2 linked regions of the Homo sapiens genome follow. The protein of the gene in region 1 interacts with the protein of each later gene in a pairwise test. Each region holds a gene or a part of one and is shown in the gene's direction. Other genes may lie near its edges.

What was found. The genes of interacting proteins can lie anywhere in the genome.
Region 2: the proteins of PDZD4 (region 1) and APIP interact in a two-hybrid assay, tested with the Homo sapiens proteins (2 studies listed by BioGRID and IntAct).

What each region holds. Positions count from the first base shown.
Region 1 is NC_000023.11:153,826,221-153,835,852, reverse strand, and holds the start of PDZD4 (PDZ domain-containing protein 4), read left to right. Parts: upstream 1-5,308; 5' UTR 5,309-5,554; coding exon 5,555-5,614; intron 5,615-5,893; exon of another isoform or gene 5,894-6,120; intron 6,121-9,632.
Region 2 is NC_000011.10:34,880,962-34,886,695, reverse strand, and holds the end of APIP (methylthioribulose-1-phosphate dehydratase), read left to right. Parts: intron 1-3,191; coding exon 3,192-3,359; intron 3,360-3,879; coding exon 3,880-3,979; 3' UTR 3,980-4,401; downstream 4,402-5,734. UniProt on the Homo sapiens protein: Catalyzes the dehydration of methylthioribulose-1-phosphate (MTRu-1-P) into 2,3-diketo-5-methylthiopentyl-1-phosphate (DK-MTP-1-P).

The sequences.
Region 1 (9,632 bases):
ACCATGTTGACCAGGCTGGTCTCGAACTTCTGACCTTAGGTGATCCGCCCACCTCGGCCTCCCAAAGTGTTGGCCACCGCGCACGGCCTTAGCTTATTTTCTAAACAGAAAATAAAACGAAAGAGGGCCTTGGGTGGACAAGTGTTGATGGATAATGATAATCTGGCTCTGTCAACTTGAAGCAACAACAACGAAAGACAGAAGGAAAATACCACGTTCATATGAGAACATGAGAAGCCCTCCGGGGCCCTGCCCATCTGAAAAAATGGCGTAGTAGGCCACGTGCAGGTGGCTCACACCTGTAATCCCAGCACTTTGAGAGGTTGAGGTAGGTGGATCACCTGAGGTCAGGAGTTCAAGACCAGTCTGGCCAACATGGTGAAACGCCGTCTCTACTAAAAATACAAAAATTAGCTGGGTGTGGTGGCAGGTGCCTGTAATCCCAGCAGCTAGGGAGGCTGAGGCAGGAGAATCTCTTGAACCCGGGAGGCGGAGGTTGCAATGAGCCAAGATTGTGCCACTGCACTCCAGCCTGGGTGACACAGCGAGACTCTGTCTCAAAAGAAAGAAAGAAAGAAAAAAAAAGTGTAGCAGAAATAGACCAAAGAGCAAAGGCAATTCAATGGAGAAACGGTAGCCTTCCCAGCAAATGGTGCTGGAACAACTGGACATCCACATGGAAAAATGAACCTAGGCACAGACTGCTGTGGCTTGAAGGTATGTGGCCTTCCAAAATTCATATGCTGAAACCTAATTATCAAGATGATGGTATCGCAGGGTGGGGCCTTTGAGAGGTGATTCGGTCATGAGGGCTCTACTCTCATGAACAGGATTAGTGCCCTGATAAAAGAGGCTTCATGCAGTGGTCTTGCTTTACTCCCCTTTTCCAACACGTAAGGACATCATGAGAAGATATCATTGATGGAACAGACCTTCACCAGGCATGGAACCAGTTGGCACTGTGATCTTGGGCTTCCCAGCCTCCAGAACTGTGAGAAAAATGATCTGAGACAGACCTTCCATCCTTCACAAACATTATCTCAAAACAGATCATGGACTCAAATGTAAAACACAAAACTATCGAATCCTAGAGGATAACATGGGAACATCAGGTGACACTGGGTTTGGTGATGACTTCTTTAGATACAAGGCCAACAGCACGACCCATGGAGAGAGAGAAAACAAAGCAGCAAACTCAGCTCATGGCCAAGTAAGGAAAGGGCAACCCGGTTACTCCAGGCCAAGGCTCCCAGGAGAAGGGAGCTGGACAGAGTTTCTGGGTCGTGGTCTGGCTTCAGCCTCCCTGACAGTCCCTTCTGGAAAAGCCAGTGGGCAAGGTCGTTAGAGACTCCTGGGAAACATGGGTCCCCACTCACACATCTGACACGGCTGGGCTGGGGACTGGGGATTGCACGCATCCAGTGGAAAAAATACAGTTGGCCTTCATATCCGTGGGTTTCACATCTGAGGATTCAACTGGCCATGGATGGAAAACACTTGAAAAATAAAAAATAGCAATACAACAATAAAGATAATACAAATTAAAAAACAAATCAGGCCGGGCACAGGGGCTCATGCCTGTAATCCCAGCACTTTGGGAGGCCGAGTTGGGCGGATCACGAGGTCAGGAGATCGAGACCATCCTGGCTAACACGGTGAAACCCTGTCTCTACTAAAAATACAAAAAATTAGCCGGGCATGGTGACAGGCACCTGTAGTCCCAGCTACTAGGGAGGCTGAGGTGGGAGAATGGTGTGAACCCGGGAGGCGGAGCTTGCAGTGAGCCGAGATCGCGCCACTGCACTCCAGCCTGGGCGACAGAGTGAGACTCCATCTCAAAAAAAAAAAAAAAAAAAAAAAAAAATCATTACACTATAACTGTTTATGTAACACTGACATTGCATCCGGTAATACAAGTAATCTAGAGAAGATTTAAAGCATTAGAGAGGATGAGCAAAGGTCCTATGCAAATAGTATGTCATTTTAGATCAGGGATTTGGGTGTCCATGGATTTTGGTATCCCCAGTAGGGGGAAGCCTGGAACCCATGCCCCGTGGACACCGAAGGACAACTGTAGTCAGAAGGGTGGGATCTTCTGTGTGTCCTGCTTCTAAGAGCACCATGGCCTTTTTGCAGCTCTCTATGGTGGGTCAGAGTGGAGCCCTTCTGTGGGGTGTCATGGCATCCTCAGTGGGTCCAAGCTCTGGGACGTGGAGGGAGAGCAGGGACCTACCTCATCAGCACAGAGTAAGATAGGACCCATCCAGATAGGAATCTGGGCCAGACTCACCTGGGTACCCATCTTCAGGTTAAAGAATGCTGGAGTGCCCCGGGGAGCATGGTGGTGCCGCCCTCACCCTGTCTCTATCTTGAGCGCAATCGCCCGCTCCAGCCTGACTGCTGTGCTGGGATGTCACTGCACTGTCCTCAAGCTGCACTGTCAAGCGCAGTAACTGCCCCATGATCAGCTGTCTCTCATGTCCTTCCTCCCGGACGCTCTCCCAGGGCTGTATATTTGTTAGGGTTTTCTGATTACAGGGAGAAGCTGACTCTAACTTTAGCAAGAAAATGGATTTATCTGGCATGATGCTGGGTAGATCACCAAACTGGTGGAATGTCTAATGGAGCGGGGTTTCGGACACACAGGCGAGACCGGTTCTTTTTTTGTTTTGTTGTTTTAGAGACTGAGTCTCACTCTGTGGCCCCGGCTGGAGTGCAGTGGTGCAACCACAGCTCCTTGTAACATTGAATTCCTGGGGCCAGCCATCCTCCCGCCTCAGCCTCCTGAGTAGCTGGGACTACAGGTGCGTGCCACCACGCCCGGCTAACTGAGACCTGTTTTGAGTGGGATCCAGAGCAAGAAAGGACCCTGCAGGAGGACTGGGCTGCGGGGCAAGCTGCTCTGCCACCAGCAGCGAGAGCCCGCCAACCTAACGGTGCTGGAGGGATCTGTCCATGGTAGGCCAGGATGCTGTGCGGAACCCTCAGGAAGCCTCAATGGAAGGATCCCAGCAGGGACCATAGAGGCTGTGGCAGGGCCACACCTTCGGTGGCAGAGCTACTCACTCACCACTGAAAAAAGCATAGCTGTGGCCATGCTACTGGGACCTAGGAGAGACTTACAGCCTGATCATGGGGCATCCAGGGCCTGTGTGACCCAAGCCACCCATTGTGAACTGAATATTGAGGTGGAGATGGCACATTGAGGCCCAGGCAGTCCAGACCCCCGGTCACCCGGCTCTTTCACACTGGTATGCCCCTTCAGCTCACACCTATGGCCTCATGGGAGGTGGTGATGGGGTGTCCCCATGACTGACTCAGACCCAGGTCCTCGACTGGTCATCTCATGTCACCACTAGGAAAAACACCTGCTGTCACACTGAGGCCCTTTGCAGGGTGGCCCTGAGAGACAGCAGTGAGGGGACATCCTCTAGGGGAGCAAGACACTAGGTTGTCTACTTTGTAGAGGGAGAAATGGCCTGAGATGAAGGTGTCCATGACCCCCGGGCAGTGGAAAATGGCTGGGCTGACTGGTCAGGGACCCGGGTGGAGGAAGATTGGAAGAAGAGACAGGTTTGGCGAAGAGGTACCTACGGGAGTGCTCAGGGAGAGTGTGGGGCCCCGTGCTCGTCTTCGCGCCCATGCCGCTGGGGAGCATGCAGTGTGGAGGGGGCGCGCCAGAAGCTAGCGAACAGAGGGGACCATCTGGTGGAGGTCAGCCAGCTTCTCCCCAGGATGCGATGGACCCACGATGCCAGTGGCCATGGTGGGAGGGCTGGAGGCTCTGTATAAGCCCAACGGCAAGGGCTTCCTCTTACCACGGCTCATCTAGACACTGCCGCTAGTGAATGTTCTTCCATCCACCAGCTGCAGAGACCGATGCTGAGCCCTCAATATGACGCCATTCCTCAAGACTAGCCAGCCATTGGGTGGCAGGTTGCAACCTGCACACCAGCCCTTGTCTCAAGTTCTGCTTTCTGGGAGAAGCCCTGGATAAGAAACTCGCCTCTCTTCTCCACATTCTGGGCAGGCCCGCCATTCTTGATTTCTCTTCTAACGAGGAGCCAGGGAGGAAAGGAAGGGCTCCGATTCAACAGCCCCGTGTGGCTGGGGGTTCCCTCACTTGCCCAAACCTGGAAATGAAGCATGTAGCAATTTCTCCAAGTGATCTCCTGCAGCCGGGGCAGCCTCTGGGAACGCAGACTTCCACCCGCTGCTGCTTTCCAGGCAAAGGCCTTCTCCCTCCAGGCTTGTCCAAGAAGACGGGGAGGTGGTGGGAGAGAAGAGGAAGAGATGGAAGGGCTGTGAAAGCGGGGACCGGGTGAGGGCTGGGGCTGAGGAACAGGTAGGCGGCGGGCCCAGGCTGGCCAGTGCTGTGTGCAGGCCCGGGTCCCAAGGCCTCCGAGGCCACTCTCCCCACGACCCACCCCCTCCCCACGCTTCGCTCATCCTTTTTTCTTTCTCTCTTTCTTTTCTTTCCTCCCTTTCTCTCTTTCTTTCTTGTTTTAAACAAAGGTGTCCGTTTCAAAGACAGCAGGGAATGGCTGAGTTGAAGGAGGGATGCAGTCATTTAAGGCGAAGCCCGAGGAAGGAGCAGAGGCGTGAGGGCTGCTGCGTCCAAGACCGGGGAGAGGGGCTGAAATCGCGGACTCTCTCTGGGGGACCCAGGAGACTGCTCCTCCTGGCAGGACCCCTCTCTCCCAGAGCGGCATCGCGCAGACAACGCGCCTGGTGCCCGCCCCTCAGGACCGGACGCCGGGTGTCGTGGGGTGCCTAGGACCCCCGCCCGCTTCCGTCGAGCGCCCGCCCCCGGCTTCCCGCGCCGGCTCCAGCGCCCCCGCCGCTCCCTCCCGCAGCCGGCCCCGCTCCCCTCCCCGCCCCTCCCGGCGCGCGTGCGCCCCGTGCCCGCGCCCCTCCCCCGCCGCCGTGGGCGCGCTCGCGTGCCCGTCGTCCCGGGCGGGAGCTGGAGACGGCCAGCGGCTGCTGGACGAAGAGCGGGCGCCGGGAGCTCCGAGAGCGCGGCCGGGCGAGGCGGGAGCGCGGGCGCTGGCCTGGCCGCGGGCGGGGGCCGCCGCCGCGCCGCTGCCCCCCTGTCGCGGGCCGGGCCGCGGCGCCGAGCGCGAGGGCCGGGCTCCCGGGGCTGGCGGCCATGGGCAGGAGCCGGAGGCGGCAGCGGCAGCGGCGGGCCCCGCGGGCGGGGAGGCGCGCGGCCCACGGCCCCTGACGGCCCCTGGCGGCCCGGCGCGCCCCCGCGCTCCCTGGGGGGCCGTAGCCTGGCAACGCCCGGCGCGCCCGCCCATCCCCCGCTGCCCTTTTTCTCCTGGCCGGGTGCGAGGGAGCATGCCCGCGCCTGGCCTCGGCCAGCGAAGAGTTAACCTGAGGGGCGAGCCGCTGCCCCCACCTCGGGGGCGTGCCCCCCTCCCCCGCTAGGCGGCCCGCCCCCCGCGCCAGGGTATGGCCCCTGGCCCCGGCCCGGGACCCGAGGTCCCGCGCCCGGGTCAGTGAAAGGCGTCTTCCCGTTCCCGCCCTCCGCCTCCTCTCGCCGGCCAGCAACATGGGATGTAATATGTGCGTGGTCCAGAAACCGGAGGAGCAGTACAAAGTGATGCTGCAGGTAGGGCCGCCGGCGCTGCGGCGGGGGCGCGGCCCTCCGCGGGGAGGAGCGGGCCAGTGGGGAGGCCCGGAGCGGCGGGCGTGGGAGAGCGGGAGGGCTCGAGGAGGACAAGGTAGGGAGCCGTCCGCACCCTCCCATCCTGGGGCTGTTGGGTGTTGGCGCTCCGTGGGAACCAGCCACGGGTGGGGTGGGAAGTTGGGGTTGGCCCGGGTGGGGCGCGCTTCCGTCCCGGGAGGCGCGGTGCGGCGGGCGCGGGATGGAGGTTGCATAGCAACGAGCGCAGTTCCCCGCACACGCTCTCCCCGCAGGACCCAGGGCGGGGGAGGGAGCCAGGCTCCCGCCGTGCGGGGGGCGCCGAATCTAGATCCCGGCGGGCCTGGAGCGTGGGAGTGCGTGGGCGTCCCCGGGCGCGGTCCAAGTCCGTCCGGGGGCTGGGTGCCCACCCCGACACCCACTCCCGCCTGGCCCTGCCCGAACGATGGGCTCCCGGGCCTTAGGCGTCTCGGGTGAGTGGGCGCCGCCGGGATCAGCGGGTTGGGCTCTCTGCGGGTGGCAGTGCCTGGCCGGGCTTTGCGGGGCGTGGACCAGCAGGGCCCCGCGGGGAGGGAAGGAGACGCGGGGCCCGGAGCTCGGACCTGGAGCCCAGCCCCGCGGCCCGGAACGGGGCTTCTTGCCTGTGCGTGGCGTGACTACGTGAGTGCGTTCCTGTGCCCCGTCTCTGTGTGCGCGGAGGCTCCCCCGGCCCCGCATTTGTGTACTTTCTGTGTGCACCCTGCAGACTGTCTAGAGAAATGTCCCGGATGCTGTGGGCTGAGACCTCCTAGGGCTAAGTGGAGGGAGGTCAAGGTCAAGGCACCCAGGAGCAGACAGGGCTCAGACAGGTATGCGTTTAGTGGCCTGGATTCAACTCCCGGGTTTATTGGTCTGGACTGGGAAGGAATCAAGTGCTTTGCAGGAGGGGTGTTGGCTTGGGAGAACGTGGGGGAACCCGTGCAGGGATCGGCGAGAACTCCGGGGCGGGGGCGGGGGCGGGGGAAGGAGGGGCTGGGCACGGGGGAGAATTCCCAGGAATCCGGGGACTGACTTCACGCTGTGAGCCGAGCTCCTCTGGCCACCTGGTGCGGGAGCCGAGGGGCAGGGCGGGGACGCAAATCTTGCCCCACCCTGGCGGAGCTCCTGGTCCTCTCTCCCCGGCCCTTCTCCGGGGGTGCGCGGGGCCCTCGGCTTCTCCCGTTCGCTGTCCTCCGCCTTCTTCCCTCTCAGTTCCCGGCTGCCACTCCTCGTCTCTTGTTCCCGCTGTTTGGAAACCTTGTGTGGCCATTGCCAGCCCCCTAGCGGGATAGGAATGCGACCGAGAGGGCGTCCTGTGGAATCCGTGTTGGATTCCAGGGCTGGGATGGTTGGTTGACGGGGACTCTGGATCCCATCCTCCTGCTTCCTTTTCGGGAGTCATTCCATCAAACGGCAAGCGATTTCTCCAAGCGATTCCTCCGGGGCCGTTTTGACTTTCCTGGAGAAGGATTGGTGTCGCACTTCATTTAAGGCCAACCTCGTGGGGACGTGTGGATAGGGGAGAGCGACCCGAGCTGCACCCCAGGCCTGAAATGAGCCATGGGACGACACCGGTAGCCCTTGGGGCTCCCCACAGCCCTCCGGGAAGGCCTCGGCAGGTCGGGCTGGGCCTGCCTTCAGGGAGGTGAACTTGGGTGGGCCCTCCCTGCTCTGCGCCCTAAGCTCTCCTTCATGGAAGGGACTTGCCCACCCCAAGGAGACCCGCCAGGAGGAGGGCCACTGCCGCATGCGCCCTCTGTGCGCTTTCCTGCTGGGCTCCCTTTGAAACCGTGGGAGTTTGGCTGCAAACTTTCACTTTCTACATTCCTCCTTGGCCCAATCAAAGCCGGGATTTTACGAGGAGAACCATCCTTCACAACTAAGGGAAAACAAGAGGACTGAAAAAAGTAGATACGGAAAGCAGTGCAAGCCATGAGCTGTCCCAGGGGACTGCGCTTCTGGGGGTGGACGCATCACCAGGTCCCAGCCTCTTCAGAGGAGAAGGAGCTTTTGTTCCAAAAGACAGGTCAGCTTCTGGGACCCCGTGCCTGCCTCCCGGCCTCCTTAAACACGGGTGCTCCCCCATCTTTAGGGGGCACTTCTCCCTGTCCCCCCTGAGTAACCTCGTCCGCACCTTGTCAGGGTGAGGCACTTCATGGGCCTGATTTTCAGAAAGAAGCACATGTGCATCTGCAGCGCCTTCCATCTACAATCCACAGAGGCCTGGGATCCCCAGGCCAGGAACCCCCAAGTCTCTAGCCTAGCCTTGTGTTCCAAGCCATTTTCTGCCAATGACTCACAACACTTCCAAAATTACAGCTGTATTGAGCTATCATTCTCCTACTGCACAACTTACCCTTTCAAAGTGTACAAGTCAGTGGTTTTTAGTATACTCACAAGGTTGTGCAGCCCACACCAGTAATTCCAGAACGTTTTCATCACCCCAAAAGAAACCCTGCACTCCTTAGCAATCACATCCCCATTTCTCCCTCAAACTTCCTAGCCCCTGGCACCCACCAATCTACTTCCTGTCTCTATGGATTTGTTTATTCTAAACATTTCATAGAAACTGACCTTTTGTGTCTGGCTTTCATTAATCATAATGTTTTCAAGGTTCATCCATGTATCAATAGTCAATTTCTTTTTATTGCCAAATAATATTTCATTTTGTGATATACAACATATTTATCCATTCGTCAGTTGATGAGCATTTGGGGTGCTTCCACCCTTGGGCTGTTGTGAATAGCGCTGCTGTGAACACTGGTCTACTTGTATCTGTTTGAGTCCTTGCTTTTAATTCTTTGGAGTGTGTGCCTGTAGCCATTGAACTGTTTTCCACAGTGGCTGGAACCAGTTTACATTCCCACCAGCAACATATAAGGGTTCCAATTTCTCTATATCTTTGCCAACAGTTGTTATTTTCTGGGTTTTTGTTATGGCCGTCCTGCTGGGTGTGAAGTGGTATCTCATTGTGATTTTGATTTGCACTTCCTGTTAGCTAAATGATGAGCACCTTTTCTTGTGCTTGTTGGCCATTTGTGGATCTTCTTTAGAAAAATGTCTGTTCTTAAGCCAGCGCCACACTGCTTTCATTACTGCAGCTTTGTAGTAAGTTTTGAAGTAAGGAAATGAGAGTCCTCCAACTTTGTACGTCTTTTTCAAGACTGTTTTGTCTATTCTAAGTCCCTCAAGTTTCCATATTAATTTCAGGATCAGGTTGTTAATTTCTGGAAAGAAGCCAGTTGGCATTTTGATAGAGATTGCATCAAATTTGTGGATCAATTTGGGTAGTATTGTTCATGAGCATGGGGTGCGTTTTCCATTTATTTAGGTCTTTAATTTCTTTACATGATGTTTTGCACTTTTGTTTAAGTTTATTCATGAGTATTTTCTTTATGATGCTATCATAAATGGAATCGTTTTCTTAATTTTACTTTCAGCCTTCTCATTGCTACTGTATAGAAATACAATTGATTGGCTGAGCGTGTTGGCTCACACCTGTAATCCCAGCACTTTGGGAGGCCAAGGCGGGTGGCTCACCTGTGCTTAGGAGTTCAAGACCAGCCTGGCCAACATAGTGGAACCCCGTCTCTACTAAAAATACAAAAAAAATTAACGGGGCATGGTGATGTGTGCCTGTAATCCCAGCTACTCAGGAGACTGAGGCAAGAGAATCGCATGAACCCCAGAGGCAGAGGTTGCAGTGAGCTGAGATTGCACCGCTGCACTCCAGCCTGGGTGACAGGGCAGGACTCTGTCTCAAAAAAAAAATTGATTTTTATACATTGATCCTATATCTTGCGACCTTACTAAAATTGTTTATTAAGTATAATTTGTTTAGTAGATTCCTCAGGATTATCTACATATTAGGATCATGTCATTGGCAAATAGAAATCGTTTTTCTTCTTCCTTTCCAATCTGGATGGCTTTGATTTCTTTTCTTTTCTTTCTTTCTTTTTTTTTTTTT
Region 2 (5,734 bases), on another chromosome or scaffold:
AAATATGATGTAAAAGGTAAAAAGTGGCACACCTGTCTAAGGCCCTGACCATGAACGGAGCTTGCAGAACTGGAAGTTGTTCTGGGTGAATAAGTGAGTGAGTGGTGAGTAAATGTGAAGGCCTAGGACATTACACTACTATAGACTTTATAAGCATTGTATGTTTAGGCTACACGAAATTTATTGAAAACATTTCTTAATAATAACCTCAGCTTACTGTAACTTTTTTAGTTTATCAAGCTTTTACTTTTTTTTTTTAACTTTTGGACTCTTGTAATAGTACCTTAAAACACACATTGTACAGCTATACAAAAATATTTTCTTTATATCTTTATTCTATAAGCTTTTTTCTATTTTAATTTTTTTTAACTTTTTAAATTTTTTTTGTTAAAATCTGAGACACAAACACATATATTAGCCTAGGAGTACACAGGGTCAGGGTCATCAATATCACTGCCTTCCACCTCCACACCTTGTCTCAGTGGAAGGTCTTCAGGGGCAAGTAACATGCATGGAGCTGTCATCTCCTGTGATAACTAACAGTGCCTTCTTCCGGAATACCTCCTGAAGGACCTGCCCGAGGCTGCTTTACAGTTAACTTTTTAAAAACCATATAAGTAGAAGGAGTACACCCTAAAATAGTGTTTTAAAATTATAGAGTAATAAATACATAAACTACTAACATAGTCATTATCATCACGTATTACATACTGTAATAATTGTATGTGCTGTACTTTTATACAGCTAGCAGCACAGTAGGTTTGTTTACACCAGCATCACCACAGACATTTGCATAATATGTTGTGCTGTGACCCTATGACAGCTATGCGGTCATTAGGCGATAGGAGTTGTTGAGAGCCAAAAAGGCCAAAGGGATCGTGATCAACTCAGCATTCCACTGGAGGCTATATGATCAAACAGCAAACTGTTTATCATGAATGCAGGATGTGAGCAAACTCACACTGCGCCTGCCACCAAAAGGTTTGCTGAGGGACATCACTCCCTGGCACCGGGCTCCTTGAAGTTATCCATTGAGAAATCTAGAGCCTATTGTTCAAAGGATGCAGTCTTGCAAGCCTGCTGTGAACCAAAGTGGCCGACTGACAATTGCCCGACAATTGCCCCCCATTTCTCGTTATCTCTTTTACCAATAAATACGGAGGGCTGTGTACAGCTCGGGGCCCTTGTCCACTAGAGGCAAGGTGCCCCCGACCTCTTCTTCCAAACGTACTCTCTTGTTTTTATCTTTTATTCCCACGTTCGCCCCCTTTGTTCAGTCCACCAGGTCTGTGCAGGTATAATGGAGTTTTTCAGCTCCATTATAATCTTATAGGACCACCATCATATCTGTGGTCTGACATTGATGTATATGTATATACCTATATATGTGTATATATATACCTTTATATGTATAGTTATATGTATATATATACACCTATATATGTATAGTTATATATACATGTATAACTATACATATATAATATACATATATAGTTATATAGGTATATATATACATATATAGTTATACATGTATACCTATACATATATAGGTATACATTATATAGGTATATATAATATATATAATATACATGTATACTATGTATACATATATTATAGTTGTATAATGTATACATATACATAACTTTATATTATAATTGTACTCCCTTTCAGAAGCAATGTCTCTATGGTACAGTGAAAACAATACTCTTTGAGGGTCAAAGGGCTATCCTGGCTCTCTTTCTCATTTAACTTGTCTGGATCAGTGTCATGTTTGTAAAGTGGGAGGACTGGCTTGAATTCGCTTTCAGTTCTTACTTTGCTGTGAAATTATTTTGCTCCTGAAAATATTTCTGACTATTGAGTGCATGCTAGAGAAAAATATGTTTATGGTTCTCTCGGCCAATATTAGGAAAGATTTGAGACTAGCAATTCATTCCTTCAATATTTAAGGATACTTTTTTCTTTTTTTTTTGAGACTAAGTCTGGCTCTGTCGCCAAGGCTAGAGTGTAGTGTCTCGATCTTGTCTTATGCAACCTCCGCCTCCCAGGCTCAAGCCATTCTCTCACCTCAGTCTTCCGAGTAGGTGGGACTACAGGCATGCACCACCATACCTGGCTGATTTTTGTATTTTTTGTACAGATGGGGTTTCACCATGTTGGCCAGGCTGGTTTTAAATTCATGAGCTCAAACAGTCCATCTGCCTTGGCTTCCCAAAGTGCTGGGATTATAGCTATGAGCCAATGCACCTAGCCATAGTTAAGGATAGTCTATAATTACCTCTGTTTTACTTAAGTGAAGTGATGGGCAACTCTATACTCTTAATGATAATGGTTGGCCAAGTTATCAGTCACATGATGACTACTTAGTCTGTGCTTGCCCTACAGTAGCAATTGCAGAATACTTTAGCTAGAACTTTTTTTTTTAAGTTTTTAGCACTATAGAAGTAGTGAAAAAGCAGATGTTACATTAACAAAACAAGAGAAATTCATGTAAAAAGGAAAGCTTATCTGAGTTTTTGCAAGAATAGACTTAATTTTGCCAGTGACAATTATGTGTTTAAATATTACATTCTGATTTCATCACATGTATTTCCTGAGAGGACAGTGGAAGTAAAAGAAGTTCTAATGCTACAGATTTGAGAATGTTCTGAAAGCGTCGTACCTTTAAGAGTTATCTCCAGAACATTCTTGCTGTCCTAGTGCCACAAACCATGCTTGTGTTTTTTGATTTGCCTATCTCAGATACTTTGGGATTCTGCAGAAATGAAATACAGTGATTTTGTATTAATTGGGAAATTCTTAATATATAATTCAATTTTTAATCTTTTCTATGCTTCTGATTCTGAAATATATCATTTGCCATCTCCTTGTATAAATATTATGATTGTCCCTGCTTCAAGGAAACATTTATATGATCTTGATGATTTCTTTGTTAGGTTTTGGTATATTTTACAAATTTCCACCACTTAGGCTTAGGATTAGACCAAGCCTGCCACATTCCCAAGGTACCTTTTGATAGAGATGTTTATACAAGGTACACAGAATAACACGCAACATCCTGTTCATAATTTGGAGTGGCTTTTCAGACACAAACAGCATGTCTAACTGGTTACTTGAAAAAATTACATGTTGTATACATATCAATGCTTGATTTGTTTTAATGGAAAAAAATGGCTTGTTTTGTCTTACAGATATGATGATATGTTAGTGGTACCCATTATTGAGAATACACCTGAGGAGAAAGACCTCAAAGATAGAATGGCTCATGCAATGAATGAATACCCAGACTCCTGTGCAGTACTGGTCAGACGTCATGGAGTATATGTGTGGGGGGAAACATGGGAGAAGGCCAAAACCATGTGAGTGTAAATCAGAGAACATGGGGAACAAGTTACCACCCGCTAAATGTGAAGGAAAACAAAGTATGTCAGTTGGTTTAAATTTAAATTGTTTATCATTATTTGTAGATACTTTATTTTTATTATGTATCCATTCATGAAGAAGTATTGATTGGATGAGCTGTTGTTTGGCAAGGCTCTAGGAATGTTGATAGAGGAAGAAGACACAGATCCCAAGTTACAAAAGTTCTATTTCAGAAAGTGACATCTAGTTTAAAAAAAATGTAAATTTATGTAGGCAGTATATTTTAAACTCTCTTTTATTTCCTGAGAGGTATGTAATATTGTTGCATGACTTAATATGATTCCTTTCTGTGTTTTAAAAATGTTGAGGGAAAAATAGAATTTTGGCCTAGAATTGAGAGAAAATACATACTAGGAACAAAGCAGAGTTAACTGCAAGAGAGGAGAAATGTGATTCTTTAGGATTGGAGAACTCTGTTTCGATAAACACTGGTTCTTTTTGCTTTTTCTTTTACAGGTGTGAGTGTTATGACTATTTATTTGATATTGCCGTATCAATGAAGAAAGTAGGACTTGATCCTTCACAGCTCCCAGTTGGAGAAAATGGAATTGTCTAAGCCAAAAGAAAGTCTAATTATATACAGAGATAAAGCTAAACGTAATTATTATTTAAATGAAAGCTATTTTTTTAAATGAATTGAAATTTTTCATGATGCTACTAATTTGCCACTAAATACTGCAAATGGTCACCCTGAATCTCTTCTGACATTGGATGTTATTTGCTTATATTCTTATAATTTTAAATGAGGGCACAGTGAAATGAAAATTTTATACTCTATGTTTCTGTTTATTTTTAAATCCTTAACAGCAAAATATTTGCCTTTAATTTCTTTTTTATATATACTCTCAGAGAATTCCTCTTAATTTTTAAAGATGCTGGTGATAATAAAATTCATTAGAAAATTTCCTCATTGTGGAATGAGCATTCTCTTGTTTTAATGTTGGTGTCAGAAAATAAATATGAAACATTAAGTCCAAATTTATCCCTCAATGTTAATGTCAAAATAATTTTATAGATTTCCCCTATTAGCTTTAGTGTTTCCCTGTGGTCTACAACAGGACACTCATTTTATATTGGGATCAGTTGTGAAATTCAGGTCAGGTGGTATCAACTCAAATTCCCTTAACCAAACAAATCTTGATCAAACCGATGATGTAATCAGAAAGTCCTTTCTTTAAAATTGTTTTAAATTTTAGGTTTGGGGGCCCACATGAAGGTTTGTTACATAGACAAACACATGTCACAGGGGTTTGTTGTACATATTATTACATCACCCGGGTATTAAGTTCAGTATCCAATAGTTATCTTTTATGCTCTTCTTCCTCCTCCCACCCTCCGCCATCAAGTAGACCCCAGTGTCTGTTGTTTCCTTCTTTGTAGTCATAAGTTATTGCCATTTAGCTCCCACTTAGAAGTGAGAACATGCAGTATTTGGTTTTCTGTTACTGTGTTAGTTTGCTAAGAATAATAGCCTCCAGCTCCATCCATGTTCCCGCAAAAGACATAATCTTGTTCTTTTCTATGGCTGCATAATATTCCATGGTGTATATGTACCATATTTTCCTTATCCATTCTGTCACTGATGGGCATTTAGGTTGATTCCGTGTCTTTACTCTTGTGAATAGTGCTGCAGTGAACATTTGTGTGCATGTGTCGTTATGGTAGAATGCTTTATATTCCTTCAGGTATATACCCAGTAATAATAGGATTGCTGGGTCAAATGGTTGTTCTGCTTTTAGCTCTTTGAGGAATTGCCATACTGCTTTCCACAATGTTTGAACTAATTTGCACTCCTACCAACACTATGTAAGGGTTCCCTTTTCCCTGCAACCTTGCCTGTATCTGGGTTTGTTTGTTTTTTCTTTTTTTTTTTTTTTTTTTTTTGTGACAGTCTTGCTCTGTCACCCAGGCTGGAGTGCAGTAGCACCATCTTGGCTTACTGCAACCTCCATCTCCTGGGTTCAAGCGATTCTCCTGCCTCAGCCTCCCAAGTAGCTGGGATCACAGGCATGCTACCACCCCCGGCTAATTTTTGTATTTTAGTAGAGACAGGGTTTCGCCATGTTGGCCAGACTGGTCTCAAACTCCTGGCCTCAAATGATCCGCCCACCTCGGCCTCCCAAAGTGCTGTGATTACAGGCATGAGCCACTGCCCCCAGCCTGTTTTCTGGATTCTTGGCGGAGGTTCTTCCACTGGGGAAAAATAGTTTTAGCCACCTCTGGTTAATTTCATTTTCCTCATTTTAAAATGCAGCTAATGAATAAGATAAAGTATGTGGAGGAACAAACCACAATGCTTAATCCAGTGTAG